Linked DNA regions of Homo sapiens: regions 1 and 3 are each linked to region 2. The links come from fine-mapping of genetic effects on gene expression. A gene starts in region 2. Each other region holds a variant in brackets. All regions are shown on one strand. Distances are between the middles of the regions. Region 1 overlaps ASAP3 (ArfGAP with SH3 domain, ankyrin repeat and PH domain 3). Region 2 holds the start of ASAP3 (ArfGAP with SH3 domain, ankyrin repeat and PH domain 3). Region 3 overlaps ASAP3 (ArfGAP with SH3 domain, ankyrin repeat and PH domain 3).

Region 1 (10,223 bases), 46 kb after region 2:
GTTGCAGTGAGCCAAGATCGTACCACTGCACTCCAGCCTGGGCAACAGAGCGAGACTCCGTCTGAAAAAAAAAAAAAAAGATTAGCTGGGCATGGAGGTGGGCACCTGTAATCCCAGCTACTCAGGAGGCTGAGGCATGAGAATGGCTTGAACCTGGGAGGTGGAGGTTGCAGTGAGCTGAGATCGCACCACTGCACTAAAAAAAAGAAAAAGAAAGAAAAAGAAAATAAAAGAACAAAGGTTTTCTGAGCTTTAAGTATGAAGCTCCATGGGCTCAGAAGAATGAAAGCACTTTGAAATAACTCAGAAACAGAAAGTCAAACACTGCATGTTCTTTCTCCCTTATAAGTAGGGGGGTAAGCAATGGGTACATGTGGACAGACAGAGCAGAATAGTAGACATTGGAGACTTCAAAAGGTGGGAGGATAGGTGAGAGATGAAAAATTACCTATTGGGTACCATGTACACTATTCGGGTGATGGGTACTCTAAAAGCCCAGGCTTCACCACTGCACAGTATATCCACGAAACAAAACTGCACTTGTACCCCCTGAATCTATAAAATTAATACAAATAAAAAAGATTGAAGGCACCTGTGTTCTTAAATCCTTTCCAGGAAAATCAGAACTGTTTGCCCCAAATCTCACTTGGCCCTTGTTTGAGTCCTTCATCCCCCTGAATAAACACCTTCAAATCCTTCCCATTACTCTTGGGATAAAGACCAAGAATATATTAACATGGTGTGAATTAGACCCTGCATGGTCTGGCACCTCCTTACCTTAGCTGGCACCAGCCCTCTCCATCTTGGCACTCGCTCCTGCCTTGGGGCCATCACATGGTCCATCCCTCTTGCCCAGCAGTAGCTTCCTCCAAGCTTCTCAGGCTTCAGATCCCAGCTCAGACATCACTTCCCAACTAGCCCCAACGAGGTTGGATCCCCATTTTCTCTCCCATAGTTCTCTGCGTGGCTGTGATTTGATTCATGTCTTTCTCCCCCACCACTCTGTGGATTCCCTAAACTGTCTTGTTCATTGTACCCAGCCCCACCACACAGCTGGCACAGGAGGGCCTCCTGCACCATGTGGCCCCTTTGCTCATGCATCCTTGGCAGAAGAGGATATAGGGGCTGGTGAGACTTGTTCAGGCTTCTCTTTCCTTGGGGTCTAGGGCCAAGCTGGAGAAGGAGCGCGATCGGGCCAGGGTGACAGGAGGGATCCCTGGGGAGGTGGCCCAGGACATGCAGAGAGAGCGGCGCATCTTCCAGCTGCACATGTGTGAGGTAAGGGGTGCTCTGGATGAGGGAGGGGGGGCGTGGGATGTGTCTTCCTGTCTGCCTCTCCAGGGGACCAGTCACAGCCTCAGCTCAGGTCCTGGCCACATGGCCCTGTGGGATGTCACCAAGGCCCAGTCGCAGCCAGGAGGATTAGCCTGGGATGGGGACTGCAGCCCCTCGTTCCCAGGATTCTGCTTCAGCTCACATCACGTATCTTGCCCTGCCCTCCTCCTAGTATCTGCTCAAAGCCGGGGAGAGCCAGATGAAGCAAGGTCCTGACTTCCTTCAGAGCCTCATCAAGTTCTTCCACGCCCAGCACAAGTAGGTATCTTCCCGCGTCCCTGCCACTAACCCTTCCAGTGTCACAGAACAAGGCCCCTCTCAAGGTGTGATAGACCTGAGAGTCTCTTTGGAGGCCTGCATCTTTTTGGCAGAACTTTCATAGTTCCTCATTGAGTGCTCACCGGGTGTCAGGCATGAGTACTTTACAAACATCAATTCGCTCAATTCCCCAACACTTCTGGGAGCAGGTACTCTATTATCCCCATTTTATAGATGAGAAAACTGAGGCTTATTTTCCAAGATTACATAGCTAGTAAGTGGGATTTGAACCTAGTCAAGAGAGACTCTTGTCTATGGAGTGTCTGTTCTTGACCGTCAGACTACAATTCCCTGAGGTGCCCTGTGATCCTTACGGCAGCTTCTCCCACACTTCTGGCTTCATCTCTCATTTCCATCTTTATCTGGACCCTTGTTTGGCCTCTGACACCTCTTAGCTTTTTCCAAGATGGCTGGAAGGCTGCCCAGAGCCTGTTCCCCTTCATCGAGAAGCTGGCGGCCTCAGTACATGCAGTAAGTTGGGTCTCACCCTTGGGCACGTGATCAAGCCCCCTGTCCTTCCAGGAAAATCTGTGGGTGTGGAAGAGCTGGCTTCTGCCCACAGAGTGAGGCTACTGCTCTGCTCTTCTGGGTCTGGGCTCTGTGCCTGACATATTTGTTGGCTGGTGATGGGATCCCATCCTCTGTCCCATAGCTCCATCAGGCCCAGGAGGACGAGCTACAGAAGCTGACCCAGCTCCGGGACTCCCTCCGAGGGACACTGCAGCTTGAGAGCAGAGAGGTCAGCCCCTGAACTATCCCAAAAGGAATGCCCTCCCCCAAGGCCCACCGTGGAGGGAGGGAGAGAAGGAAGACCCACAGGGTCCCCTGGAGAAGTCTCCCTGAGTGAGCCCCCGCAGAATGGGGCTCTTCCCACTGAGATGCCCTGAGGTCTCCTTTGCATGTCCGAGGGACAGGAACACCTGAGCCGGAAGAACTCAGGATGTGGCTATAGCATCCACCAGCACCAAGGCAACAAGCAGTTTGGGACGGAGAAAGTGGGCTTTCTATACAAGAAAAGTGACGGGTAAGTGATTCAGAGCTTACATAATTTGCCCAATGTCACACTGCAAGTAAATGACAGGGTTGGGGAAGCTGCCCAAAGGAACTGTTCTAATCATTTGTGTAGACACCGAGGGTTGCAATGTAAAATCCTCAATTCCTGGGTTGTCCAGGACACCTGGGCATGTGAACTTCTGCTAAAGGTGACTGGTTATTTTAAGTTAAAGAAGAAGAATAGCAGTAGCTAACACTTTTTTTTTTTTTTTTTTTTGAGATAGAGTCTCACTCTGTCGCCCAGGCTGGAGTGCAGTGCCATGATCTCGGCTCACTGTAAGCTCCGCCTTCCGGGTCATGTCATTCTCCTGCCTCAGCCTCCCGAGTAGCTGGGACTACAGGCACTCGCCACCACACTCGGCTAATTTTTTTGTATTTTTAGTAGAGACGGGGTTTCACTATGTTAGCCAGGATGGTCTCGATCTCCTGACCTTGTGATCCGCCCGCCTCAGCCTCCCAAAGTGCTGGGATTACAGGCATGAGCCACCGCGCCCGGCTGGCAGTAGCTAACACTTATTGCAACACTTACTATGCCCTCATTCTTTTTTTTTTTTTTTTTTTTTTTTTTTTTTGAGATGGAGTCTCCCTCCGTCACCCAGGCTGGAGTGCAGTGACGTGATCTCAGCTCACTGCAACCTCCGCCTCCTGGGTTCAAGCGATTCTCCTGCCTCAGCCTCCCGAGTAGCTGGGACTACAGGTGCCCGCCACTACGCCCAGCTAATTTTTTGTATTTTTAGTAGAGACGGGGTTTCACCGTGTTAGCCAGGATGGTCTCAATCTTCTGACCTTGTGATCTGCCAGCCTCAGCCTCCCAAAGTGCTGGGATTACAGGCGTGAGCCACTGCGCCCAGCCTATGCCCTAATTAATCTCTGCAATATACTGAATATGCCTAGAAATGAAAGTATTGGCTGTGCCTTGCTTCCTAGTGTAAAAAAAAAAAAAAAAATCAGTCTGTGGGCCAGGTGCAGTGGCTCACACCTGTAATCCCAGCACTTTGGGAGGCCAAGGCAGGCAGATCACTTGAGGCCAGGAGTTCAAGACCAGCCCAGCCAACATAGTGAAACCCCATCTCTACTAAAAATACAAAAAATTAGCTGGGTATGGTGGCGTGAGCCTGTAGTCCCAGCTGCTTGGGAGGCTGAGGCATGAGAATTGCTTGAACCTGGGAGGCAGGGATTGCAATGAGCCGAGATCGTGCCACTGTATTCCAGCCTGGGTGACAGAGAAAGATCCTGTCTCAAAACAAAACAAAACAAAAAAACAAAACTGCTGTGAAATGCAAAGGCCCTTGTGGGATATATTCATGTTTCTACCTACCAATCAGTTTAATCGGAGAAGAATAACTTTGAAGAAGAAACCAATGAATATTTACCTGTTACAGGAGAAGTGTTACGGAGTTTTGGATCATGGACTTGCTAATTTTATTTTGGGGATATTAATATTGATCTTGCTTAGTTGAACCACAATTTATTTGTTGTTGTCAAGAGCCTGTGCCTCTCAGACTAGGAGCTCCCTAATGATATAAGCTATGTCTCCCCCATCAGACTGGGAGCTCTCAGAGGGCCAAAGTCACATCATCCCCTTAGAATAAGGATTCCCAGGGAGTGAGGCTGTGTTTCTCCATCAGACTGGCATCTTCCTAAGAGCAGAACTGTGTCTCCTCCATCAGAAGGGAGCCCCAGAGAGTCAGGGGTCAGGGGTGGGGGTGTAGGGTTAGGAGAAGAAAGAGGTAAAGGGATGTGGCTAGAGATCATACAGGTGGGGGCAAATTTCTGTTCTCTGACACCTGCGAACTAGGTGTGAGCCTTGGGTCACTGTCCTTCTATCCCTCTGGGCTTTAGAATTCGAAGAGTCTGGCAGAAAAGGAAGTGTGGAGTCAAGTATGGCTGCCTGACCATCTCACACAGCACGGTGAGGCCTAGAGGTGGTGGGAGTCTCAGGGCACGATGGACCCTCTTCTTCTGGTGTTCTGAGCAAATAATGTCAAGCCCTCCCTCTAAGACTGGCCCCCAAACCTAGGTCCAGGGAGCTGGAGACCCGTTTGGGAGGACAGATGGGACCTGAAGGCCCCAATCTAGTCTTAGTCTACACTTCACATCCTTGAGGTGCTGCTGGGTGAGGAGAAACACAAATGGAACAGGATGATTATGCCCATTTAACAGAGTGGGAAATGGAGGCCTAAAGAATGTGGAGGGCCAGAGGTAATGCATACATCCTCCGCCCCTAAATTCCCACAGATAAACCGGCCCCCGGTGAAGCTGACCCTGCTGACGTGCCAAGTGAGGCCAAACCCTGAGGAGAAAAAGTGCTTCGACCTGGTGACCCGTGAGTGGTCCCTGTGCCTCTCCCCCACCCACAGCTGCTCAGGGCTTCTCTAAGACACCTGTCAGCTCCCGGGGGGCTTCAGTGAGGGGTCTGTGTCCAGTTCCACACATGGTGTCGAATTGCTGCTACTGCAGACATAAGAATCCTTAGGTCTAGGATACCCACATCACATTAAATGTCAAAATGCACCCACTTTACATAATAAATGTGGCTATTTATACAGAGCATATTTGAGTGGATTTGGGTCATCTGGGTTTTGAAATTATTTCTTTTTTT[A/T]AAATTTTACCTTTTTTTCCCAAATACCCAGACTTGAAGGAGATGAAATTATTGTTTCTTTACATTTTCTACTTTTCGTTCTTCAGAGCCTTTGGTGCAGGCTTTGTGTGAGAGCAGACACAGGCTGAGAAAGACCTAGATCTTGTCCTCAGGAAACTCTCTGGCAGGGGTGTGGGGTGGGTACCCAGGACTGTAAGATGAGGGGGCTGTCCAGAAGATGGGTGCAGATATAGCCCCATAGAAGATTAGGGAGCAGGAAGGCCTGCACTGCTGTGGGGAATCAGGAAAGGCTCCTGGAGGAGACAGTATTTGAGTTTAGCCTTGAAGGACATGTAGAATGAAGAGTTTGTGGGGTGGGGGCTTTTGAGGAGACAGGATTAGCATGATGAAAGGCATGGAAGCAGGAGAGTGGGTCTGGCCGGTTTGGCCAGAGTGGAGGGTTCATGTAGCAGAGTGAGAGATGAGGCCTGGAAATCCCTCTTAAAAGTTTGGACCTTATTTCCTGGCAATAGAGAGCCATGGGAGATCTTGGGGCAGGGCAGTGGTGTAATTAGAGCAGAGCCTTGGGCACAACAGTTGGGAGCTGGTACAGGCTAGGGGAAAGGGGAAATGGGAAGCAGGGAGACCAGACAGGAGGCCTGGTCGCCCAGGAGGAGACCAGGAAGGGCCCAGTGGGGTGGTGACAGTTGGTTCAGAGGATGCCCTGCCTCAGAGCTGGGTTCTCTGGGGTTCCAAGCCCTTTGAGACCTCGTCTGAGCCTGGAACCAGGGCTTCACGCAGAGGGAGCTTTGTTGGGATCCTACTTCGGAGGCCAGTTCTGAGAAACTGCCCCTGGTGCTGGCCACTGTCATTCCACTCCCTTCCCACTCCTAGCTTGAGAGTCCGACTTGTCAGGGACACATCTCCATGTGGCCCCAGCGGCTTTGGTGGGGGCTCCCTGGGCTCCGGGAAGGCCAGCAGCATTTCTGTGGGTCAGAAGCCCCCTTCTCTCCCGACAGACAACCGGACGTACCACTTTCAGGCAGAGGACGAGCACGAGTGTGAGGCGTGAGTGCCCCCTCGGCCAGCCCGGCCAGCCTTGTGGGTGGGGGCCGGCGGCCCTATCTCTTCCCACTTGACATCCCCATCCCACCCCGTTCAATCTCCGCAGGTGGGTGTCAGTGTTGCAGAACAGCAAGGACGAAGCCCTGAGCAGCGCCTTCCTCGGGGAGCCCAGCGCTGGCCCGGGGTCCTGGGGGTCCGCCGGCCATGATGGGGAGCCGCACGACCTCACAAAGCTGCTCATCGCGGAGGTGAAGAGCAGGCCTGGGAATAGCCAGTGCTGCGACTGCGGGGCTGCAGGTCGGTCCCCGGGGCCGGGGCAGGAGGGAGGCTTAAGTGGAGGGGAGGGGCTGCACCTCCAGGCTCCAGCTGCTTTCCTCTGCAGACCCCACGTGGCTCAGCACCAACCTGGGCGTGCTCACCTGCATCCAGTGCTCGGGCGTCCACCGCGAACTGGGCGTGCGCTTTTCGCGCATGCAGTCACTCACCTTGGACCTGCTGGGCCCCTCCGAGTTGTTGGTGAGGGCGGGGCGGGGCCTGGAAGGGGCCAGAAGCGGAGTTAGGGGTGTAGTTTCATCCGGGGGCGGGGCTTGCAGGTTGTGGGTGGGACCTGGCCGAGGTGGGCTGGGACAAGCCAGGTAGCGGGTGGTCAGGGGCGGGGCCTGAACCGGGAGGGCGGCCGAGGGGCGGGACTCTGGGGGCTTGGAGCTCCACCCTATGCAGGCTTAACCGCCCGGTCTTACTCCGCCCCACGTCTATTTTCCTACGACTCCAGCTGGCCTTGAACATGGGAAACACGAGCTTCAATGAGGTCATGGAGGCCCAGCTACCCTCACACGGCGGCCCTAAACCCTCAGCTGAGAGTGACATGTAAGGGGATTCTCAGAGAGAGGGGCACCCTGCCTAGGGGATTCTGCCTCCGCAGTGTCCAGGGTCGTAGAAAAGTCTTGGATCAGAAGTCTGGGGAGGCTGGGCGCAGTGGCTCACGCCTGTAATCCCAGCACTTTGGGAGGCCAAGGCGGGCGGATCACTTGAGGTCAGGAATTTGAGACCAGCCCGGCTAAGATGGCAAAACCCCGCCTGTACTCAAAATACAAGAATTAGCTGGGCGTGGTGGCACACGCCTGTAATTCCAGCTACTCAGGAGGTTGAGGCACTAGAATTGCTTGAACCCTGGAAGCAGAGGTTGTAGTGAAACGAGATTGCGCCACTGCACTCCCTCCTGGGCAATAGAGTGAGACTGTCTAAAAAAAAAGCCTGGGGAGAGGGGAGCCTCAGATCTAGACGTCTTCAGGACATGGTTCTGGAGAAAAAGAGAGCTGTATCTCCTGTGGGAGGGCCCCAGGGATCAGCTGGGCAGACACGGTCCATGCTCTGAGATCCTGTGGTTGTTTTTGGTAGGGGCACCCGCAGGGACTACATTATGGCCAAGTATGTGGAGCATAGGTTTGCACGCCGGTGCACACCTGAGCCTCAGCGACTCTGGACAGCCATTTGCAACAGGGACCTCCTGTCGGTACTGGAGGCCTTTGCCAATGGGCAGGACTTTGGACAGCCGCTGCCAGGGCCTGATGCACAGGTGAGAACCCCTCCAAGGGCCACTTATAACCCACCTGTCTAACATATTCCCCAGTTCTTCTCCAGGACCAGCTGTTACTCCCCTCCACCCCACCTCTGACATCTGCTCAGATCTCACCCATCAGAGTGGTAAGTGGGAAAGAGCACAGCTTCAGTCAGGCAGACCTGGGTGGGAATCCTGGCTCTGTTTTTTCCTAGCTGTGTGATCTAGGGCAGGTTACTTCTCTGAGTCTCATTTCCTCATCTATAAAAGGGGTTAATAATAGCACCCACGGTGATGAAGTGAGAAGTCATGTATATAAAGGGCTTAGTGTACAATGGGCATGCAATAAACGTTAATATCTTTTTCTTTCACCTAAATAGCCCTGAAATATAAGGGCATGTCAGTTTAGAGCCAGGAAGGCCACATTGCTTTGGCTATTCCAAGAACAAACACATGAGCATGGAGAAAGGATATCAGAGACATTTGAAAAAGTAAATCAACAGGAGTTGCTGACTGATTCGACATCAAAAATTGGATGTTGGCTGGGTGTGGTGGCTCACGCCTGTAATCCCAACACTTTGGGAGGCCAAAGTGAAAGGATCACTTGAGCCCAGGAGTTCAGAATCAGCTTGGGCAAAATAAGGAAACCCCCATCTCTACAACAACAACTAAAATTAGCTGGGTATGGTGGCACACACCTGTGGTCCCAGCTACTCAGAAGGCTGAGGTGGGAGGGTGGCTTGAGCCCAGGAGGTTGAGGCTACAGAGAGCTGTGATTGCGCCACTGCTCTCCAGCTTGGGTGACAAAGCGAGACCCTGTCTCAGAAAAACTAAAAACGGGTATCTTTGAACTGTCTGTCTGATATCTTGGTGGGCTATCCAATGGGCAGTGCAGCACTTAGGTGAGGTAAGAATTTGGAACAGCCTGCACATGTGTGATAGTTGAAAATGTGAGGTTGCTGAGGTCTTGGTGGGGAAGTGCGATCAGGGAGAGGAGCCGAGAGCTGAGAAAGAAGTTTGGGAAACACTTGTTGGGGGCAGAGGAGGAAGAGCCGTGAATGGGAACAATGGGAGAATGGCCCTTCACCTTCCTCCCAGACATGAGGCTCTGCCCTTGCAGTCTCATCTCTCCAGGGTTCTGGCAGCTTCCTATGGGGGGATAAGGGGTTAGCAAGAGTTCAAGAGGGAAATACTGGGTTGGAGGCAGGTGCACTGGGGGGGGAATCTCAGAGGTGTGGATGTGTTTTCAGGCACCTGAAGAACTCGTCTTGCATTTGGCTGTCAAAGTCGCCAACCAGGCTTCCCTGCCTCTGGTGGATTTCATCATCCAGAACGGGTGAGAGCCTCCCTGCCTGTCTGTCTGGCTCCTCACACTCCCTCTCCTTTCCTTCCTCTTCTCCCATTCTCTTCCCTCCTTTCCCCTCCCACTTTTTCCCCTGACTTTGATCCCCTCATTGATCTGTTCCCCTTCCTTTCTCCCTGAACCCTCCTCTCCCCAGTGGTCACCTGGATGCCAAGGCTGCTGACGGGAACACGGCTCTGCACTACGCAGCACTCTACAACCAGCCCGACTGCCTCAAGCTGCTGCTGAAGGGGAGAGCTTTGGTTGGCACAGGTGGGGCTTGAATACCTCCTCCGTCAGACTCCTATTCCTGACTACCCCTTATGTGGACTTCCGATGGTCTCGGGCTCTAATCCTGGCTTGCTTCTGACCACCTCTGTGATCTTAGGGGTTTGTCATTCAGCTCTTGAATTTCAGCTTCCTCATCTGTAAAATGGGAATAATACCACTGACCTAGCAGGACTGCTAAAGAAAAAAGAAAATAATATTTCTGGGAGTACTTAGGCAAATAAATATTAGCTAGATCTGAATGATAATGATTGTAATAGCTAATATGTATTGTTTAACATATGCCTGGCAATGGGACAAGTGCTTTTTGTATGTTAATTAATTGAATCCTCACAACCACTTCATCAGGTAGTTCCAAGTATTATACTCATTTCATAAACAATTTTGTCCCAAAAGGTTATATAACTTGCCTATGGTCACATAGCCAGAAAATGGCAGAGCCAGGATTCAAACCCATACATTCTGATTCCAGAGGCCCGTCTTAATCTCTAAGCTGTAATGTTTCTTTGACTATGACCATGAACCCTGACTTTCCCCGCTCACAGTAAATGAAGCAGGCGAGACAGCTCTGGACATAGCCAGGAAGAAGCACCACAAGGAGTGTGAGGAGCTGGTGAGGACTCGGGGAGGCAAGGGGCCCCTGACTCTTTCTCTCTCCCTGCTGAGCCCCCAACCCTCTGAAC
Region 2 (10,223 bases):
CTTTGTGTGAGATCCAAGAACCCTCTCTTGGGGTCTGGACCCCTTTCCGGTAACGGTACCAGCAGAGGACTGTTCAAGCAGTTGCTCCTGAGTCTCTATTTATTGATTGTATGCAGAAATGAGGATAAGCTATCTTGAGAGGTTCTATTTTAAAAATTATGGCACTGAAAGTACAGTATTTGCATTAGGTATATCAAACACTTGGAATCCTTACAGTTTTCTCTCCTTCTCTATTTTGATCCAATATAAACATAGTCGGGCATGACATAATATCAAATACCTATAGATTACTTAAAGATTACCCTAAACCTGGAGGTTCAGAAAAAATTTCACTGTAATTGAATTGTTCACATATTTAAGTAAAAACAAAAAGTTATTTTACTTAAAAAGAGAGAGAGAGAGAATGGCCAGGCTCAGTGGCTTAGACCTATAATTCCAGCACTTTGGGAGGCTGAGGAGGGAGGATCACTTGAGCTCAAGAGTTCGAGACCAGCCTGGGCAAAGTGAGACCCCTGCCCCCCGACCTCCATATAAAAATTAAAAGTGGCAGGCGCGGTGGCTCACGCCTGTAATCCCAGCACTTTGGGAGGCCAAGGCGGGCGGATCACGAGATCGGGAGGGAGATCGAGACCATCCTGGCTAACAGGGTGAAACCCCATCTCTACTAAAAATACAAAAAATTAGCTGGGCATGGTGGTGGGCACCTGTAGTCCCAGCAACTTGGGAGGCTGAGGCAGGAGAATGCTGTGAACCCGGGAGGCGGAGCTTGCAGTGAGCCGAGATTGAGCCACTGCACTCCAGCCTGGGTGACAGAGCAAGACTCCATCTCAAAAATAAATAAATAAATAAATAAAAATTAAAAGTTAGCCCAGTGTGGTGGCACACATCTGTGGTCCCAGGTACTTGGGAGGATGAGATGGGAGGATCCCTTGAGCCCAGGAGGTTTAGACTATAGTGAGCCATGATCATGCCACTGCACTCCAGCCCGGGTGACAAAGTGAGACCCTGTCTCAAAATAATAACAATAAAACAAAACAAAGAAGGCTTTAAAGTCTTGCAGACCTGGGTTGGAATCCTGGTTATATTACTTGTTCATTCTGACTTTATACAAATTAATCTCTCTAAGCTTTAATTTCAGTGAGATGGGAAGCATAACGTCACCTACCTCATAGGGTTGCTGTGAGTATTGAGTGGGTATTGAGTGAGCTATTGCTTGTATAGCCCTTGGCCCTGTGACTAGTACGTAGTAAATAAATAAATAAATAAATAGGTGGGCCAGAGCCCCAGACCAGAAAACTGATTATTACAGTCCACAGTGGTAATTGCTGTGGTGGGAGATACTGGATCCCGTAGGAGTCCAGAGTAAGTACATCAAGGAAGGGTTCTTGGAGGAATTGACATCTAAGTTGGCCTGCTGAAAGGACGTGGGAGAGCATTACAGACGGAGGGGAGAACAGTGAAGGGGCTCAATCACAGTGGGGACAGAGAGGCAAGAGATCAGCCTGTGAATGGCAGGAGCAGCAAGACCATGCAGGGCTAGACATCCATGAAAACAAGTTTGGCTTTTATTCAGAGAGCAATGCGGGGGGCACTGAAGAGTTCTAAGTAGAGGAGCAACAGAACAGATATGCAAGATTAGGGGCAGGGAGACCAGCGAGGAAGTGAGAGGTGGCAGTGGTCTGGACTGGGGTTGGCCTGCAGATGGAGAAGGTGGTCTCACTGGTGAGACTAGTGACAAGACTTGTTTGAGGGGAGGTTGGTAGAAGAAGGGAGGAGAGGATGACTCCGAGGGGGTGCATGGTAATGCCTTCCATCAAGACAGGGACAGAAAACAATCTGGTGCAAGGAGTGGGCGTACGAGATGGTGAGTTCAGTTTTGGACCTGTAGAGTTTAAGGTGTCTGTCTGTGAGCCAGTGAAATGAAACTGTCTCATAGGTGGCTGGATACATAGATCTTGAACTAGAGAAGAGTCCAGGCTGGAAATACAGCCTTGGAAGATGTGATTGGCTCAGTAATGGCTCCCAAAGATATCCAGGTCCTAATCCATGGAACCTGTAAATGGCACTTATATAGCAAAAGAGATTTTGCAGGTGTGATTAAATTAAGGATTTTGAGATGGGGAGATTATCCTGGATTATCTGGATAGGCCCTAAATGTAATCACAAATGTCCTTATAAGAGGGAGGCTGAGCACTTTGAGAGGTCCAGGTGGGTGGACCACTTGAGGTCAGGAGTTGGAGACCAGTCTGGCCAACATGATGAAACCCTGTCTGTACTAAAAATACAAAAAATAAAAATATAAGTAAATAAAAAATAAAAATAAAAAATTAGCTGGGTGTGGTGGCATGGGCCTGTAATTCTAGCTACTCAGGAGGCTGAGGCACAAAAATCCCTTGAACCTGTGAAGCAGAGGTTGCAGTGAGCTGAGATCACACCACTGCACTCCAGCCTGGGCGACAGAGAGGCATCACGTCTCAAAAAAAAAAAAAAAAAAAAGAGAGAGGTTGAACTAGCTGGGCGTGGTGTCATGCACCTGCAGTCCCAGCTACTTGGGAGGCTGAGGTGGGAGGATCGCAAAAGCCCAGGAGGTTGAGACTTCAGGGAGCTGTGATCACTCCACTGCTTGGAGTGACAGAATGAGACCCTGCCTCAAAAAAAAAAAAAAAAAAAAAAAAAAAGAGGGGGCCGGGCGCCGTGGCTCATGCCTGTAATCCCAGAACTTTCGGAGGCCGACGCGGGTGGATCTCCTAAGGTCAGGAGTTCGAGGACCAACATTGAGAAACCCCATCTCTACTAAACATACAAAATTAGCCGGGCATAGTGGCGCATGCCTGTAATCCCAGCTACTCTGGAGGCTGAGGCAGGAGAATCGCTGGAACCCGGGAGGCGGAGGTTGTGGTGAGCTGAGATCGCACCATTGCACTTCAGCCTGGGCAACAAGAGTGAAACTCCGTCTCAAAAAAAACAAAAAAAAAACAAAAAGAAGAGGGGTGGGGAGGCTGGGAGAAATTTGATCACAGGGAAGAAGGCAAGTAAGATGCTTGAAGATGCTGCTGCCCTTGAAGGTGGAAGGTGCCATAAGCCAAAGAATGCAAAAACTACAGCTCTCGAAGCTGCAAAAGCAAGAAAACAGATGCTCCCTTATAGCATCCAGAGGAAGTACAGCCCCACTGATACCTTGATTTTAGCCCAGTGAAAGTTATTGCAGACTTGTGACCTCCAGACATGTAAAAGAATAAATGTGGCCAGGCGCAGTGGCTCATGCCTGTAATCCCAGCACTCTGGGAGGCCGAGGTGGGCGGATCACCTGAGGTCAGAAGTTCAAGACCAGCCTGGCCAACACGGCGAAACCCCGTCTCTACTAAAAAATACAAAAATTAGCTGGGTGTGGTGGCACGTGCCTGTAATCCCAGCTACTCGGGAGGCTGAGGGAAGTTATTGGTGATTTGTTATAGTAGCAACAGGAAACTAGTACAGAAGACATCAACATTACCGTTGGGATTGGATGAAGAAATCCAGGAAGGCTGATAGAGTGAGACATGCAGAGGATTTAGCAGAGAGCTCCCAACAACTCCAGCATTTAAGATCCCTGCGGAGGAAGTGCATCTCAGAAAGGGCTCTTGGAACAGCCAGAGGGAGAGGGCCACCAAAGAAAATAGTTCTCCTAGGATTCAGGGGCAAGGGTGTTTCAAGGAGAAGGGAGTGGTTAACATTGTCAGATGCTCCTAAAAGTCAAGCAAGAAAAGTGCCTAAGCTCAGGAGTTTGAGGCTGCCTTGAGCTATGATCATTGCACTGCACTTCAGCCTGGGCGACAGAGTGAGACCTTGTCTCTAAAAATAAATAACAAGAAAAGTGCCTATTTGGTTTCAACAGGAGAAGTTGACCTTGAAAGAACTCTTGGAATAGTTGTCGTCTCTATCAGATGGTACACATTTTTTTCAACTTTTAATTCTTTTTTCTTTCTTTTCTTTTTCTTTTTCTTTTTTTTTTTTTTTGAGACAGGGTCTCACTTTGTCACCCAGGCTGGAGTGCAATGGCAGGATCTCAGCTCACTGCAAACTTGACCTCCCAGGTTTAAGCCATTTTCCTGCCTCAGCCCACCAAGTAGCTGGGACTACAGGCAAGAGCCACCACGCCGGGCTAATTTTTGTATATTTTGTAGAGACAAGGTTTCGCCATGTTGCTCAGGTTGGCCTTGAACTCCTGAACAATCCGCTCACCTCGGCTTCCCAAAGTGCTAAGATTACAGGCATGAGCCATCGCTCCCGTCAACTTTTAATTCTATTACACAGTAGTATATGGTCATTGTATAAAAGTTAGGATATACAGATTCACCAAAAGAAAAGAAAGTTACTCATAATGTCTTCAGCTAGTGCATATCTGTCTTCAGCTAGTGCATAAAATGTTGCTGGTGCAACATTTTAGTGCATATCTTTCCGGATTTTTTCTTTTCTTTTCTTTTCTGTGCGAGAAAAGAAAAGATTCTCTCAATCGCCGCCCTGTGGGGTAAAATACCATGAGGCCATTTTAAGAGGGGGAAATGCAGGCTTAGAGAAGCAAGCAATTTATCCAAAGTAACCAAGATTGGAATCTAGGTTCCTCTGACTCCAAAACCAATGTTCCTTGCTGCGGTGCTTTCCTAGCTTTTTACTTGGAGAACTTTTCCCCAGAGGACCTCAGGCTTCAGAACTAAACCTAAGTGGATTTCTATCCTGAACCCCATCCCTCATCCGCCCCAAAGGATGGTGAGCCAGATTAAGGGGTGAAAGGCAGGAGCAGGAAGAGTAAAGGCGTGGGTGCGATCTATGGTCGGGTAAGAGGGAACTAGTACACGCACGTGTTCGGTTCTTCGCAACATCACAATCAAGCGGGCATCAGGCTTCCCATTGTACAGATAAGGAAACTGAGGTTCCAGAAGAGAAGTAATTTTCCCCAAGTCACACAGCTAGCCAGGGGCCCCGATCCACACATCCCCGGGGCGGCGGGGGTTATCAGGAGGGAGTCTCCGGATGCCTGCAAAGCTGAGGCTGAGAGCTGGGCGTACGCAGCAAAGGAGGGGTGGGGCGATTCGGGGCGGAGCGAGGCAAGGAGATTGGGCGGGACTGGGGAGAGAGGAGGGAAGGGTGGCGGGGGGGTGGTAGGGCAGAAGGGGCGAGGTCATGGGGAACTCGGAACGAATCAGCAGAGGAGGGAGGAAGAGGGAGGGGGCTCTAAGACTCGACGCGGAGATGGAACAGCCTGGGCCGTGCAAGGGAGGAGGATTTGGAAGACCCAGAGCGGGATGAAACGGGACAGAGCCCTGAAGGGGCAGGGATGGGGGAAGGCGGAGGAGTTTCTACTGAGGCCAGGGGTGGGGCATCGCGCCAGGGGGCGGGGTCTGAGGCGGTGAGGGGCTGGGGGCGTGGCCTAGGGGGCCGGCGAGGGGCCGGGGAAGCGGCCTGACGCGGTGCGGGGCCGGGACCGGGGCCGGAGCCTGGACCTTGGCGGTGGAGGAAGGCGAGGAGCCGGGGGCGGGGCCGTCCCAGCTGAGGAGCGGAGAGCGGCTGGAGGGTCGGGGGCGGGGCGTGCGGAGGGGCGGGGCGTGTGGAGGCCGGGACGGCGCCCCCGGCCGGCGGTGAGGCCGGCTCAGCGCGGAGCAGCTCAGTGCCCCCCGCGCCCCGCTCCGGCAGCTCCACGCTCGCGCCCGCCATGCCGGAGCAGTTCAGCGTCGCCGAGTTCCTGGCCGTCACCGCGGAGGACCTCAGCTCCCCGGCTGGGGCCGCCGCCTTCGCCGCCAAGATGCCCCGGTACCGAGGGGCGGCGCTGGCGCGGGAGGAGGTGAGGGGGCCGAGGCGGGAGGGGTCGGGGGTCGGCGCCGGGCCTGGCCTTGACCTCCACAGGCGTGTCGCACCCGAGCTGCGATGGCCCTTCACCGCGCCCCGAAACCTGCCCCCTCCCTAGGTCTGGGAGGACCGAGCGCATCTCCAACAGCTGCGTCCTCACCGTCGAGGCGGGGGAAGGCCCGAGGGACCGTTTTGGGGGGCCTCGAGGTCTCTTCGATGACAAACTCCACAGGTCGGGGGACGTACCCCAAGTGCCCCGCGTGACCGCCTCATCACATATGTGTTTGCCTAGCGCCTTCCAGCCTCAGTTTGCGTTTTCATCTTCGGAGCCCCACAAGTGTGCCCCCCGAGTCACTCCCCTTCTGAGAGGCAGGCTTCCCGCCTCAGTCCTGAACTTTCTTCCCCCCGGCTGCAGAGAGGCCCCCTCCCGCTTGCGGCTGGTTCGGAGATTTGGCCCGCGTTTGTGGAATGAATGCGGATGGGAAGGCGCCAGGAGCCGGGGTTCACCTTGGCCGGGCTGTTGGCAAGTTTATCGTCTCCTCTCCCCTCCCCTCTCCTCTTTGTCTTTCCCAGCAAAGCGTCCCAGGCCTTTTCTTTCGGTCTTGCAGGCTGCCCCACCCCATTCCCATGCTCTTCGGAGTTCCTTCCATTCCTCTTCTCTGAACCTGCTGCAGCTTTCCGCAGCTCCTCTGCAAAGAATATTCTAGGACAGACACCCCGTGGCCTTGGTCCAACGGAGAATAATGTGTTTTTGCAGCTCCCCATCCAAAGGATGCCCTCAATTTGGGTGGCATTTTGGACCTCAGCAACGGCTCTAGCCTTCCACCCTTCACCTTAAGTGTACTAGGCACCCACTGCGTGGCAGATACAAAGCTCAGTAGTTCATAACACCCTGCGCCAGTGTCAGGAAATCTGTCCTCTTCTCTCTTGTCAGGGTGACCCTCCATCTCGGAGTCTGTTTGTATCACTTTGTAAGGGTGATAGAGGATTGTGGAAGGAGCATCGACTTTGGGGAAGGCAGACCTTTTTTCTTTCCTTTTTTTTTTTTGAGACGGAGTCTCGCTGTGTCGCCCAGGCTGGAGTGCAGTGACGCGATCTTGGCTCAATGCAAACTCCGCCTCCCAGGTTCACACCATTCTCCTGCCTCAGCCTCCCGAGTAGCTGGGACTACAGGCTCCCGCCACTACGCCTGGCTAATTTTTTTTTTGTATTTTTAGTAGAGACGGGGTTTCACCGTGTTAGCCAGGATGGTCTCGATCTCCTGACCTCATGATCCGCCCGTCTCGGCCTCCCAAAGTGCTGGGATTACAGGCGTGAGCCACCGCGCCGGCCAAGGCAGACCTTTTTTCAAACGCTGGCTCTGCAGTTTGCCATTTGGGTGAACGTGGGCATGTGACCTGTCCTGTCATCTGTGGAATGGGGGTAATAATGTGTACCTCACATGAGACAATGCATATAAAGCATGCATCTTTTTTTTGGAGACAGAGTCTTGCTCTGTCTCCCAGGCTGGAGTACAGTGGTGCGATCTCAGCTGACTGCAATCTCTGCCTCCCGGGTTCAAGCAATTCTCATTCCTCAGCCTCCCAAGCAGCTGGAATTACAGGCATGCTCCACCACACCCGGCTAATATTTGTATTTTTAGTAGAGACAGGGTTTCACCATGTTGGTCAGGCTGTTCTTGAACTCCTGAGCTCAGGCAGTCTATCCGCCTTGGCCTCTCAAAGTACTAGGATTATAGGTGTGAGCCGCTGCACTGGCCCATGCCTCTTGATAAATGGAATGATTATCGTCAGATTAATCGGCAGATCTCTTTAGACAGTGATTGGGTCTCTTTTGTCTTCATTTGTCTCACAGAGCCTCACCTTGTCTCATTTGTCTCACGGAGCCTAGCCTACTACTTTGCACATAGTAGGGGTACATGTTTTATTAAAATAAGAAGCAGCCGGTCAGATTTGGCTTCCTTCCTTGGGCAGAGTCCACTGCCTGTGGATGTGGGTTATATTTTACTGTGGGGCTCACAGGGAAACACTGCTGTCCAGCCCATCCTTTGGAGAGCTTCCTGAGATTTGTCTTCATAGCCTCACATTTCATGACCCAGAATAGCTCAGTGCCATCCACATTCTTAGGGATTTCATGGTTCATCCTCCTCCCCAGGTTGTTCATTAGAATCTTAGAGCAGGAGAAGGGGCTCCAATATGAACCTTATCCATGGACAGAAATGCCCATTTATGCCCATACATCTGGCCTTGCCTGGCTGTGTAAGTGTAAGCACTGTGTGTTGGGGGAGGGACCCTTAGAATGGGTCTGGAGGCCACAGCAGGCTCTGTTCAGGGCTCAGCTTTGCCCCAGTTCAGGCAAGACAAAACCCATCCTCCTTTGCCTTCAGATTTTTGGTTTGGTGCACGTAGAGGTTCATTGTTACAACAGAAAGGCTTGCGGCACCCAAACACAGCTTTTCTCTTCAGCATCTCAGGGCCCAAAAAGTTAGAGTCTGAACTTTGGATTAGACTTCCCTGAGGTTTCCTGTTTGGTTTTGCATTTGCATTTATATTTTGCGATTATATTGTGTTTACATATAGTTTGATGCTGCAATTTTTTCCCCCAGTTCTGGGCTTGACTAACCCACCCCCAGGCTTGTAGCTCTATTTGACTGAATCAAAATGCAACTGATTCTTAAGTCAAGTCTTCCAGTTCTGACTGGTTTCCTGGGAGTAACTAGGGACCCTGTCCTGGGACTCGCAGCCCTTTTGTACAGTCCTGCTGGGAAGGACCCTGGGCAGATCACAGGAAACTAGAATGTCAGGGCTGAGGGACCCTTTTAAGATAGAGACCAGCTAGAAACTCTCTCAGATAAGATGGAGTAACTGATGTCCAGAGAGGCCAAGAGACTTGGCCAAGCTCCTGCGGCTGGATAGTGGGAAAGTTAGCATTTCTACCCACGTGTTCTACCCCCGGTCCTGTTCTCTTTCCTTTTAAAGTCCATCTGTCTGTCCTCCCTACGTAACTTCTCTGAACCTTGTTATTTTATCCTTAAAATGGATCTCTTAATCACTCCCTGCTTACCTTACTGGGTTGTTAAAGTTTTTTGTGTTCAATTATGAAGCACCATGCAAATGTGAGGGAGTATATTAAGATAGTCATTACGTCAACCAGCCTCTTCCTGTCTTGGGCCCCTTTATGCCCATCATCTCATTGATATTCACAACAACAGGTGAAACCGGGCCTAGGGCAGTGGAGGCAGCTGCCCTGTGTCACACAGTGGGTCTCTCTGACTCTGCTGTGCTCTGCCTGGGCTCTGTCCAGCTCTCTGTGCCATCTCTATGGACATAAAGGACACTAAGGACATAAAGATGCTACTTTGATTTGCTGACTGACTAGGGAGAAGTAGCCTGTTACAGGGAGATCAGTAAGAACCCCAGGAGTTTGTCCTGAGTCCCCAGAGAAAGGTACAGTCAATGCCATAAGAGGCAAGTGGAGCAGGAGAGGGAGAGAGCAGTAAGGACTGGTGCAATGAGGGAGAAGTTCCTGGAGGAGGTGACACTTCCAGGTGGAAGGATAGATGAACCCCATTTATCGGAGAGGACAAGGGAGTGAATTCAGAGACTGGTGGGAAGAGAGCATATTGGGAACCAAGTAAGCCATTTTGACCAGAGCTAAGAATTCATACTATATTGTGTGCCTCAAACTGCTAGTGGACACACCCCCTCCAGTAGGTCTCAGATGAAGCAGTCTGCCACAAATAGGAGATCTTCAAAGGCTTGTTTTGTATATATTTTTGAAATTTTAAAAGAAAGTTTTAATTGGACAAGTGGCATAATTTATTATTATTTTATTTTTTGAGACAGGGTCTCACTCTGTCACCCAGGCTAGAGTACAGTGGCACAATCATGGCTCACCACAGCCTCAACCTCCTGGGCTCAGGTGATTTTCCCACCTCAGCCTCCTGAGTAGCTAGGATTACTGGCGCCGGCTTAATTTTTGTATTTTTTGTAGGGTTGGGGTTTCACTATGTTGCCCGGCTGGTCTTGAACTCCTGGGCTCAAGTGATCTGCCCACCTCAGCCTCCAAAAATGTTAGGATTACAGGCGTGAGCCACTATGCTCGGCCAGGGCATAATTTGTAATAAGTAATTTAAAACATAACAGAAAAGGCCTATGAACAACTATCTCAATCCCTGTATTCTCCCCAGAGGTAATTGCTATGGAAATGTACATGCTTCCCAATGTATCTCCTCATGGAAAATATATTATCAGTGGGGGAATGGGAGTGGCTGGGGGAATGTTTACCTAAATTGGTATCAGGTCTTATAATGCACAGTTTAAATTGTTTTGGAGTTACATTTTTCTTTTCCTTTGTGACTTTTGCTTTTTTGAATCTTGTTTTAGAAAGGATTTCCTTCT
Region 3 (10,223 bases), 23 kb after region 2:
TATCTCCCAAGGCCTTAGCTCTAGCAGCTCTGCCCCCTTGGCTTGAGTTGCCTTGGTAACCACAGCTGGCTCTGAGAAACCATGGGAATGAAGAATGGGTCCTATTGATGAATCCTGACCCAGAAGGGGGCATGCAGAAGGCCCTTCTAGGCAGGGCAGCTGGGCATGGCCTAGTGCTGCCATCTGTGGTCTTTTGCCTGCAGAGAACACAAACCAGAGAGCCAGAGCATGGTGTGTGTGTATGTTGGGATCAGGGTAGGGGACACAAAGGGCAGTGCCAGCAGCTGGAATTTAGGCCTTGTTTAGGGCCAGCCAGGGTAGGCTGCCCAAAGGACTCCAGTGGGCTTTCCAAGCTCAGACGTGTCTCTTACACTAAGATGTGTTTCAGCCACCTTTGCCCAGTGCCTGCCAGGCTCTTGCATGGATCCATTGACTCTTAGCTTTGAATGAAATCTAAATAGCTGTCCATTCTAATCCAAAATCCAGTGTCTGAATCACTCTCTAGCACCTAAAGTATTTGAATACTTCAAGTGACAGGGAGCTCACTGCCTTCAGGGGTGGCCTGTTCTTCCTTAGAAATGTCCCCTGTTTGAGCTGAAGTCTGTTTCTGCCTCCCTAACTTCCACCTCTCAGTCCTGGGAATCCTCTCTGAGGCCAGCCTGAACAAATCCGTTTTCTTTTCAGTAGGACATCCTTTACAGTGTTTGTATTCGGGGCCTCACCATTGCTGTCAACCTTGTTTTCCTTGGACAGATCTCCCTCTGTGCCCTGCCTTCTCCCTTTCCTAAGCCTGAGGGGATGGTGAGGGAATATGGTAGAGGTGGTAGAATTGGGATTTAGGTTTGGAGGCAGATCCAGTCCCAAGATCAAATAAGCTGTGCCCCCTAACTTTGTGGGGCAGCTTAGAGATGGGGAAAGAACATTGGCCCTGGATTTGGCTAGTCCTGGATTTAAATTGTAACTCTGGGCCAGGTGCAGTGGCTCATGTCTGTAATCCCAGCACTTTGGGAGGCCGAGGTGGGCAGATCATCTGAGGTCGGGAGTTCGAGACCAGCCTGGTCAAGATGGCGAAACCCTGTCTCTACTAAAAATACAAAAATTAGCTGGGCATGGTGGCACACGCCTGTAAACCCAGCTACTCAGGAGGCTGAGGCAGGAGGATCGCTTGAACCCAGGAGGCAGAGGTGGCAGTGAGCTGAGATTGTGTGTCTGCACTCTAGCCTGGGCGAGAGTGAGAGTCTATCCCCCCCCCAAAAAAAAAGAAAGAAAAAAAAGAAAAAAAGTTACAGCTCTGCCACTGTTCATCACTGTGTGACTTGGACATGTTCCTCCTCCTGACAGCTTCATCTTTAAAATGGGAATGGCAATGCCTTCCTCAAAGAGTGGCCAGGATAGTGACAAGTAATGAGGCTGCACAGAGCAGGCACTTGGGACATGCTGCTTGCACTCTCCCTGCCCGGCGGCAGAGGTCTGCTGTGGTCCCTCTCCACCTGTGCTTCCCCACAGCTTGCTGACGAGGATCAACATGGAGTTGGGGGTGTGGGGAGATATGTTTAATTAATTCAATGAAAGTTGAGAAATTCCTAAACCAAATTCAATTTAATTTTGAAGTAGATAACATTTTTAGTTATCAAATAGTGGACAGTATTCTAAGCACTTTACCTATAGAATTTACTTAATCTCCCCAGTAACCTTATGTGGTACGCAATATTATCATCTTCATTTTATGAATGGGGAAATTGAGGGACTGAGAGATCACATCAGGTACCTGGTGGAGCTGGAATTCAAATCCAGGTAGTTTGGGGACAGCCCCATACTTTTAGCAATGATGATGTACTGCATCTCTGAAGAGAATTAGAACAGTAATTCCCAAACTTTAGCATGCATTAGAATCACCTGGAGGGCTTGTTAAACCACAGATTGCTGGACCTCACCCCCAGATTTTCTGATTCAGCTGGAGAATTTGCTTTTCTAACAAGTTCCTGGATGATGCCTGCTGCTGGTTGAGGGCCCCCACCTTGAGAATCTCTGACTATCAGGGATTAAATGGGCCCACCTGAACCCAGAAGCTGATTTTTTTTTTTTTTTTTTTTTTTTTTTTTTTTTTTAAGACAGTGTCTCATTCTGTCACTCAGGCTGGAGTGCAGTGGCATGATTATAGCTTACTGCAACCTCGAACTCCTGGGCTCAAGGGCTCCTCTCATCCCAGCCTCCCAAATAGCTGGGACTACAGGTGTGTGTCACAGCACTTGGCTAACTTTTTTAAAAAATTTTTTGTAATGGTCGGGTGCAGTGCCTCATGCCTGTAATCCCAGCACTTTGGGAGGCCAAGACAGGAGGATCAGTTGAGGTCAGGAGTTTGAAACCAGCTTGGCCAACATGGCGAAACCCCATCTCTACTAAAAATACAAAAATTAGCCGGGCATGGTGGCGGGCACCTGTAGTCCCAACTACTTAGGAGCCTGAGGCAGGAGAATCGATTGAACCTGGGAAGTGGAGGTTGCAGTGAGCCGAGATCACACCACTGCACTCCAACCTGGGCAACAGAGAGAGACTGTGTCTCAAAAAAAAAAATTTTTTTTTTTTTTGGTATAGATCGGGGTGGGGGTCTCACTTTGTTGCCGAGGCTGGTCTTGAACTCCTGGGCTCAAGCGATCCTCTCACCTTGGCCTCCCAAAGTGCTGGGATGATAGGAGGGAGCCGCCACACCTGGCTTTTCCTTCATCTATCCAGTTTCATGGGAAACGAGGGCTGATCTCACACAGAGGCAGAAAACAAACCACAGTAAGAACCATACTCATGTTTTCCAAATGCCTCAAGCCTTGCCATGTTTGTGATCTCATTAAGCCTCACAGTAATTCTGTGAGTTAAGCAGAGAATGGATTTTTCTGCCTGTAATCCCAGCACTTTGGGAGGCCGAGGCAGGCGGATCACGAGGTCAGGAGTTTGAGACCAGCCTGGCCAACATGGTGAAACCCCGTCTCTACTAAAGATAAAAATTAGCCAGGCATGGTGGCGGGCACCTGTAATCCTAGCTACTCGGGAGGCTGAGGCAGGAGAATCATTTGAACCTGGGAGACGGAGGTTGCAGTGAGCCGAGATTGTGCCATTGCACTCCAGGCTGGGCAACAGGGCGAGATTCCATCTCAAAAATAAAAAAATAAAAAAATAAAAATCTATTTTAAAGGAGAGGAAGTTTAGAAAACTAGCTGGGCTAGTATCACCCAAGGAGATAATTTTGGAGATGCTGGGGCTAGAATCTTAGTTACTGACTCATCATAGCACTCTGGAAACCTCTGCCTTTCCTCAAAATACCTTCCTTTCCCCAGGCTACTATCAGAATCGTCTCCTTAAAACTAAATTTTTTTATGAGTGTGTGGATGAGTGGATTAAAAAAAAAAACCTGCATTTCTTTAGCTTAAATCTTTGAGCCCTATTATACCACAGGATAGGTGTTATCAACCAGTGTAAATGATTTTCAGATATTTTCTTGAGAAAGGAGTAATTAGAACTTTTCCCTTTTCATGCTCCCTATGGGCACTTGCATGTTCTTAAGTCTGTG[G/C]TTCTCTTGAAGGAAGGGGCCATGTCTTATGTGTCCCCACCATCTGGCACCATGCCTGGCTGAAACAGTCACCAAGAAATGCTTGTTGAAATGAATGAATGAATGGAGGAACTATGTTCCTGTCCTTGTCCATTCTTCCCAGAGCACGCCTCCCTTCCTGGCAGTCCTACCATTTTTTACCAAGCATTCCCTCCCCTCTACCTCATAGTGTAGTCTCTTTAGTCTCTTTTCTGCCTGTCCAGGGGCCAGAGTTAAGCAACACAGCTTAAGGGACGCCTTCCCCATTCCTTCAAAGCAGACATGGCTCTGTTTTCCCTGGACTCCCAGGAACCTTCCATCATAGCCCTCATCACATTGCATGATAAGTGTCTGCTTATAATGGCTTTTTCTTCCCTTCAATGATGATGTCCTTGAGAGCTGAGATTGTGTCTTTTTTGTTTGTTTTTTGAGACGGAGTCTCACACTGCCCTCCTGGCTGGGGTGCAATGGCGTGATCTCAGCTCACTGCAGCCTCCGCCTCCCAGGTTCAAGCGATTCTCCTGCCTCCGCCTCCCTAGTAGCTGGGACTACAGGCACATGCCACCATGCCCGGCTAATTTTTTGTATTTTTAGTAGAGACGTGTTAGCCAGGATGGTCTCGATCTTGACTTCGTGATCTGCCAGCCTCAGCCTCCCAAAGTGCTGGGATTACAGGTGTGAGCCACTGTGCCCGGCTGAGATTGTGTCTTTTTTACACAGGGTGTAGTGGGCACTCAATAACTAATTGAATGAATAAACAGCCATGTGAACTTGGCTGCCAAGAGCAGTAGGGACGGGAATGGTATCTGGCTGGGAAGCTGTTTCCTGATAGATGTCTGACAAGGGCATCGAAAAACAGTTTGTGGCCGGGCGCGGTGGCTCACGCCTGTAATCCCAGCACTTTGGGAGGCCGAGGCAGGCGGATCATGAGGTCAGGAGATCGAGACCATCCTGGCTAACACGGTGAAACCCCGTCTCTACTAAAAAATACAAAAAATTAGCCGGGCGTGGTGGCGGGCGCCTATAGTCCCAGCTACTCGGGAGGCTGAGTCAGGAGAATGGCGTGAACCCGGGAGGCAGAGCTTGCAGTGAGCCGAGATTGTGCCACTGCACTCCAGCCTGGGCTACAAAGCGAGACTCCATCTCAAAAAAAAAAAAAGAAAAGAAAAACAGTCTGTGAGTGATTCGGGTGACTTGTCTCCCTTTACCAGTTAGAGCTAGTTTCAGCCACAAGTGGCAGAATACCCAGTATAACAGTGGCTCAAATAAGAGATTTCTCTTTCATATTAAAGAATTCCACAGATAAGTAGACTGGGGCTGCTAGGGTAGTTTCCTAATCACTAGGGACAAGGCTGATATCTTGTTGCTCCGCCATCCATAACAAATGGCTTCTACTTCATGGTCCAGGATTGCTGCCTGAGCTCTAGACATCGCCAGCACATTGTAGCCAGAAGAAAGGGGTGACAGAGGGTACCCTTGCATTCCCCTTTTTTCTTTTGTTTTTTTTTTTTGTGGGGGGGTGCGTTTGAGACAGGGTCTTGCTCTGTTGCCCAGGCTGGAGTGCAGTGGCACGATCACAGCTCACTATAGCCTCAACTCCCTGGGGTCAAACAGTCCTCCCACCTCAGCCTCCTGAGTAGCTGGAATTATAGGCCCATGCCCCATGCCTGGTTTTTAATTTTTTGTAGAGACAGACTCTCACTATGTTGCCCAGGCTGGCCTCGAACTAGGCTCAAGCAATCCTCCCGCCCCAGCTTCCCAAAGTGTGAGATTACAGCCGTGAGCCACCCCACCCCAGGCCCTTTTTTTCTAAATTAAAAAAAATCGACTTTATTTTTTAGAGCAGTTTTAGGTTCACAGCAAAATTGGGCAGGAAGTACATAGAGTTACCATATACACACAGCCTCCCCCTCTGTCAACAGCTCTTACCAGAGTGGTACATTTGTTTCAATGACCATACATTGACACATCATCACCAAAAGTCCATAGTTTACATTAGGGTTCACTCTTAGTGTTGTACATTCTGTGGGATTGGACAAGTGTATAATTCCATGTATCCACCATTATAGCATCATACAGAAATGTTTCCCTGCCCTAAAAACCCTCTGTGCTTCACCTGTTCCTCCTCACTACCCCCATCCCTGGCCACCACTGATCTTTTTACTGTCTCCATAGTTTTGCCTTTTCCAGAATATCGTATAGTTGAAATCATGTAGTAGCCTTTTCAAATTGGCTTCTTTCACTTAGTGATGTGCATGTAACTTTCCTCTGCATCTTTTCATGGTTTGATAGCTCATTTCTTTTCAGTGATGAATAATATTTCACTCTCTGGATGCATGACAATTTCTTTATCCATTCACCTACTGAAGGACATCTTGGTTGTTTCCAAATTTTGGTAATTATGAATAAAGCTGATGTAAACATCCGTGTGCAGGTATGTATACGTTTTCAACTCATTGAGAAAATATGAAGGAGTATGATTGCTGACTCATTTGGCAAGAGTACGTTTAGTTAAGAAACTGTCAAACTGTCTTCCGAAGTGGCTGTACCATTTTGCATTCCCACCAACAATGGGAGTTTCTGTTGCTCCACATCTTTGTCAGTATTTGTGTTTTGGGGTTATTTATTTATTTATTTGTGTGTGTGTGTGTTTTTGTTTGGTTTTTTTTTTTTTTTTTTTTGAGATGGAGTCTCACTCTGTCACCTGGGCTGGAGTGCAGTGGCACTGTCTCAGCTCACTGCAACCTCCGCCTCCTAGGTTCAAATGATTCTCCTGCCTTAGCCTCCCGAGTAGCTGGGACTACAGCGGTGTGCCACCACGCCTGGCTAATTTTTGTATTTTTAGTAGAGACAGGGTTTCACCATGTTTGCCAGGCTGGTCTTGAACTCCTGGCCTCAAGTGATCCACCAGCCTCAGCCTCCCAAAGTGCTGGGATTATAGGCGTGAACCACCGTGCCCGGCCTCCCTTTGCCAGTATTTGGTGTTGTCAGTGTTTTGGATTTTGGCCATTCTAACAGGTGTGTAGTCCCTCCCTTCCTTTTTATTTTTCAATTTTTTAAAGCCACTTTATTGAGGTAGGATTGACATGTAAAAAGCTATACATAGTCAGTGTATACAACTTGATGAGTTTGGGGGTTATCTCCCTTCTTTGTAAGATACTTTTTGGAAGTTAACAATTAAAATATTATATTCCATGGCCAGGACTTAGTCCCATGACCACAGTTAGCTGCAAGGTAGGAAATGTAGTCTTTATTCTAGGTCGCCAAGTGGCCATCTGAAAAGTCAGGTTTCTTGTGAAGGAAGAAGAGAGAATGGACACTGGGAGCCACCCAGTGATCTCTGCCACACTGCAGGGAAGGGAAATCTTCTCAAACTTGCTTAAAGGAACTTCGTTGGGTGGATTCAGGGGTATTTCATGGAATTTCACCAAAGACATAATGTGTGGAGGTTGCCTCTGAAGAGGTAGCATCTGGAAAGTTGCCAGAAACCAGCACCACTCTTCCTCTTCTGCCTTGCTGTGGCGGTGTGGGGCTTGTTCATGTCTTTCTACACATCTGCTCTGTTCTTTTCTCTCTGCATGTGGCAGGAAGGACATCCCAGCTTTAGCATTTCAGTCAGTCAACTAGCTTTCCAGAGCCCAATTCCAAAGTCCTTGGAGAGAGAATCTGATTGGTCCAGCTTGGGTCAGGTGGGAGAGAGAATCTGATTGGTTTAGCTTGAACCAGGTGTCTGTCGACTCTGGCTAGAACAAACAAGGCTGCAGGGGCCCACCTCCAGAGGAAGGGAGGGCAGTTTTCAGAAAATGGGTGTCATGGGATGGGAAGACTCCTCAGAATGTATCTAGAGCATGAACATACTCCTCTCAGGTCCATGTCCCAGGACTTTGCAAACCATCATTCATTTAGGTAAACATTTATTGGGCACCTTCTGTGTGCTAGGTACATGGATCTGCCCTCTAGGGATTTTGGAAATTTTTTTGGAAATTGTTCATATCTTTTTTTTTTTTTTTTTTTTTTGAGATGGAGTCTCGCTCCCATTGTGCAGGCTGGAGTGCAGTGGTACCATCTCAGCTCACTGCAACCTCCACCTCTCGGGTTCAAGAGATTCTCCTTCCTCAGCCTCCTGAGTAGCTGGGATTACAGGTGTGCACCACCACGCCCAGCTAATTTTTGTATTTTTAGTAGAGACAGTGTTTCGCCATGTTGGTCAGGCTGGTCTTGAACTCCTGACCTCAGGTGATCCACTGCCTTGGCCTCCCAGAGTGCTAGGATTACAGGCGTGAGCCACTGTGCTGGCCCAGTTGTTCATATCTTTAACCTGAATTGTCTTTTAGAGCGAAATCATAGCTCCTTAAATTACTCACCTTTTAGCTTTCCAGGTTTCAAGATGGGGATCAAGGGATTTGGTAAACACATGCTTCTGTTTCCCCATCTGGATTTTGGGGAACCATAGAAGTGGCCATGTTCTTGCCTCTTTTTTTTTTTCTTTTTCTGTTGGCCAGTTTAGAAAGAAACGTTCTCCCCTCCACCTCTTTGTCTCTTTAGTAAGAAACATTTTGGTTGTTTTTTGTTTGTTTGCTTTGCTTTTTGAGACAGGGCTCTCTCTGTCACCCATGCTGGAGTGCAGTGGCGCAATCAGGGCTCACTGCAGTTTTGACCTCCCCAGGCTCAGGTGATCCTCCCACCTCAGCCTCCCAAGTAGCTGGGACTATAGGTGCATGCCACCACATGGAGATGGGGTTTCGCCAAGCTGTCCAGGCTGGTCTTGAACTCCTTGGCTCAAGTGATCCTCCTGCTTTGGCCTCCCCAAGTGCTGGAATTACAGGTGCACCCCACCACACCCAGCTAATTTATTTATTTTTTCTTTTCGGTAGAGACAAGGTCTCACTATATTGCCTAGGCTGGTCTTGAACTCCTGGCCTCAAGTGATCCTCCTGTTTCTGCCTCCCAAAGTGCTGGGATTATAGGCATGAGCCACCATGCCCAGCCTCATGTTTTAACCAACTCAAATATGATGCCGTCTCCTTAATCTTCCTGATTCTTTTGTTTTCTTTCTTCAGCCCTGGGATGGGCCTCCACGGATCTCAAATATGAAAGTGTCTCAAGTTCACACCCGAGGAGGAGAATGTTAGATTTCTAGCCCCTGTAGGAAAAGCACCTGGAACTTGGCAGACCTTCCTAGCATCAGCAGCAGCTGATGATAACGATCACAGGTGCTGTTCATTTTGAACATACTCCATGCCTAGCACCAAGCTAAATCCTGTATTTGCATCCTCTCATACATATAGCCCTCATACCAACCCTGAGAGGTAGGCATCGATTTCCCCATTTTACACATGGCTAATCAGGAAGCTCAGAAAGAATAGGCAACTTGTGCCCGGGCACGGTGGCTCATGCCTGTAATCGCAGCACCTTGGGAGGCCGAAGCGGGTGGATCACTTGAGGTCAGGAGTTTGAGACCAACCTGGCCAACACAATGAAACCCCGTCTCTACTAAAAATACAAAAAATTAGCCAGGTGGTGGGCACCTGTAATCCCAGCTAGTCAGAAGGCTGAGGCAGGAGAATTGCTTGAACCTGGCAGGCAGAGGTTGCAGTGAGCCAAGATTGTGCAACTGCACTCCAGCCTGAGCAACAAGAGCAAAACTTGGTCTCAAAAAAAATAGGCAACTTGTTCAAGGTCACATAGCCCCCGAGTAGTGGAGCTGAGCTTCGTAACTAGACCCCCCTTCCTCCAGAGGCTTCCCACATGCCACCGGCCTCTGAGAACACTCCACATTGCCTCTGAGTTCTGCCCTATGCATGTTCTCCTGTGGGTATCATTTTGAATCTTTGGCAGTACCATTTCCAATGTGTTTACTAACTCTTGTCATGTAACTCTGGAAATCAGACTCTGATCCCATTTTATTTTTGTCACTGGGAAGAACAGCTGGGCTGGGGTCAGGGTGGGGCTGTGGTACATGGATGGAACACTGTTCTGTTGCACCCGGGAAGTCCAGCTCTGTGGCTTCCCCACCATGTGTCTCTCGGTAAGGGCCTCCCATCTCTTGGCTTCAGTTTTCTCATCTGTGGGCCCCTTCCAGCTCGACATTCTGTGTTTTCCAAGTTAACTGTGCATTTCGCAAGGATTTCATGAGGTTGTCAACTTCCATGCCCCACTGAAAGGGGGAGTGTTTCCCATCTAGGCTGAGCCTGCTTGGGGCATGTGAGACTTGCTTCTTGCCATCACATCTCTGGCCTTTCCCACATTCTGATGTTTGTTCTGCAGCCTCTGGGCTTTGGGGTTATCTGGTGTTGTCTCTCCAGTTCTCCCCAGTGGTGATGGAGTGTGCTCCCGCCACCCTCTGCCATCTCCCCAGACTCAGGTAACTGAATGCCTCCAACCCCTCTCTGCTCACCCATAGCATCCTGGCCTCTTCCTCCTTGTCCTGACATAACTGTTTATTGAGCCTGGGGTTTGGTGAACAAGTGTACCCTGCTTTGTATCTTAAGGGAAGATAGAGATGTGTGTGTTCTCCCCTCTGGCCTTTTGCTCAGCATTTTGTACATATTTACAAATCATTCATCTTCTCAGCAACTCCACAAGTCCCCTAGTATCATCCCCATTTTGTAGACAAGGCACTCAAGGCTCAGAGAAGTTAACA

Evidence for each region. PIP is the estimated chance that this variant, and not a neighbour inherited with it, causes the effect.
Region 1: its variant is the best candidate, but not a certain one, in a credible set for the expression of ASAP3 in whole blood (TOPMed, PIP 0.90).
Region 3: its variant is the best candidate, but not a certain one, in a credible set for the expression of ASAP3 in whole blood (INTERVAL, PIP 0.86).

Annotation. Positions count from the first base shown.
Region 1 is chr1:23,433,556-23,443,778 of GRCh38, reverse strand. ASAP3 (ArfGAP with SH3 domain, ankyrin repeat and PH domain 3) reads left to right here. Exons shown (of 25, transcript NM_017707.4): 6 at 1,167-1,278; 7 at 1,508-1,593; 8 at 2,049-2,124; 9 at 2,306-2,392; 10 at 2,568-2,677; 11 at 4,549-4,618; 12 at 4,945-5,032; 13 at 6,307-6,355; 14 at 6,459-6,649; 15 at 6,735-6,868; 16 at 7,125-7,219; 17 at 7,751-7,928; 18 at 9,161-9,246; 19 at 9,410-9,525; 1 more. Among named protein-coding and RNA genes, the nearest start is that of TCEA3, 14 kb to the right of the region's middle. The variant A/T (reference allele first, on the strand shown) is at 5,309.
Region 2 is chr1:23,479,600-23,489,822 of GRCh38, reverse strand. It overlaps ASAP3 (ArfGAP with SH3 domain, ankyrin repeat and PH domain 3), which reads left to right and starts at 5,644. Exons shown (of 25, transcript NM_017707.4): 1 at 5,644-5,818. The coding sequence starts at 5,690. RefSeq lists an enhancer at 4,780-4,879 and silencers at 5,070-5,119, 5,130-5,239, 5,360-5,809.
Region 3 is chr1:23,456,545-23,466,767 of GRCh38, reverse strand. The region is part of intron 1 of ASAP3 (ArfGAP with SH3 domain, ankyrin repeat and PH domain 3); the gene reads left to right. Among named protein-coding and RNA genes, the nearest start is that of ASAP3, 23 kb to the left of the region's middle. The variant G/C (reference allele first, on the strand shown) is at 3,563.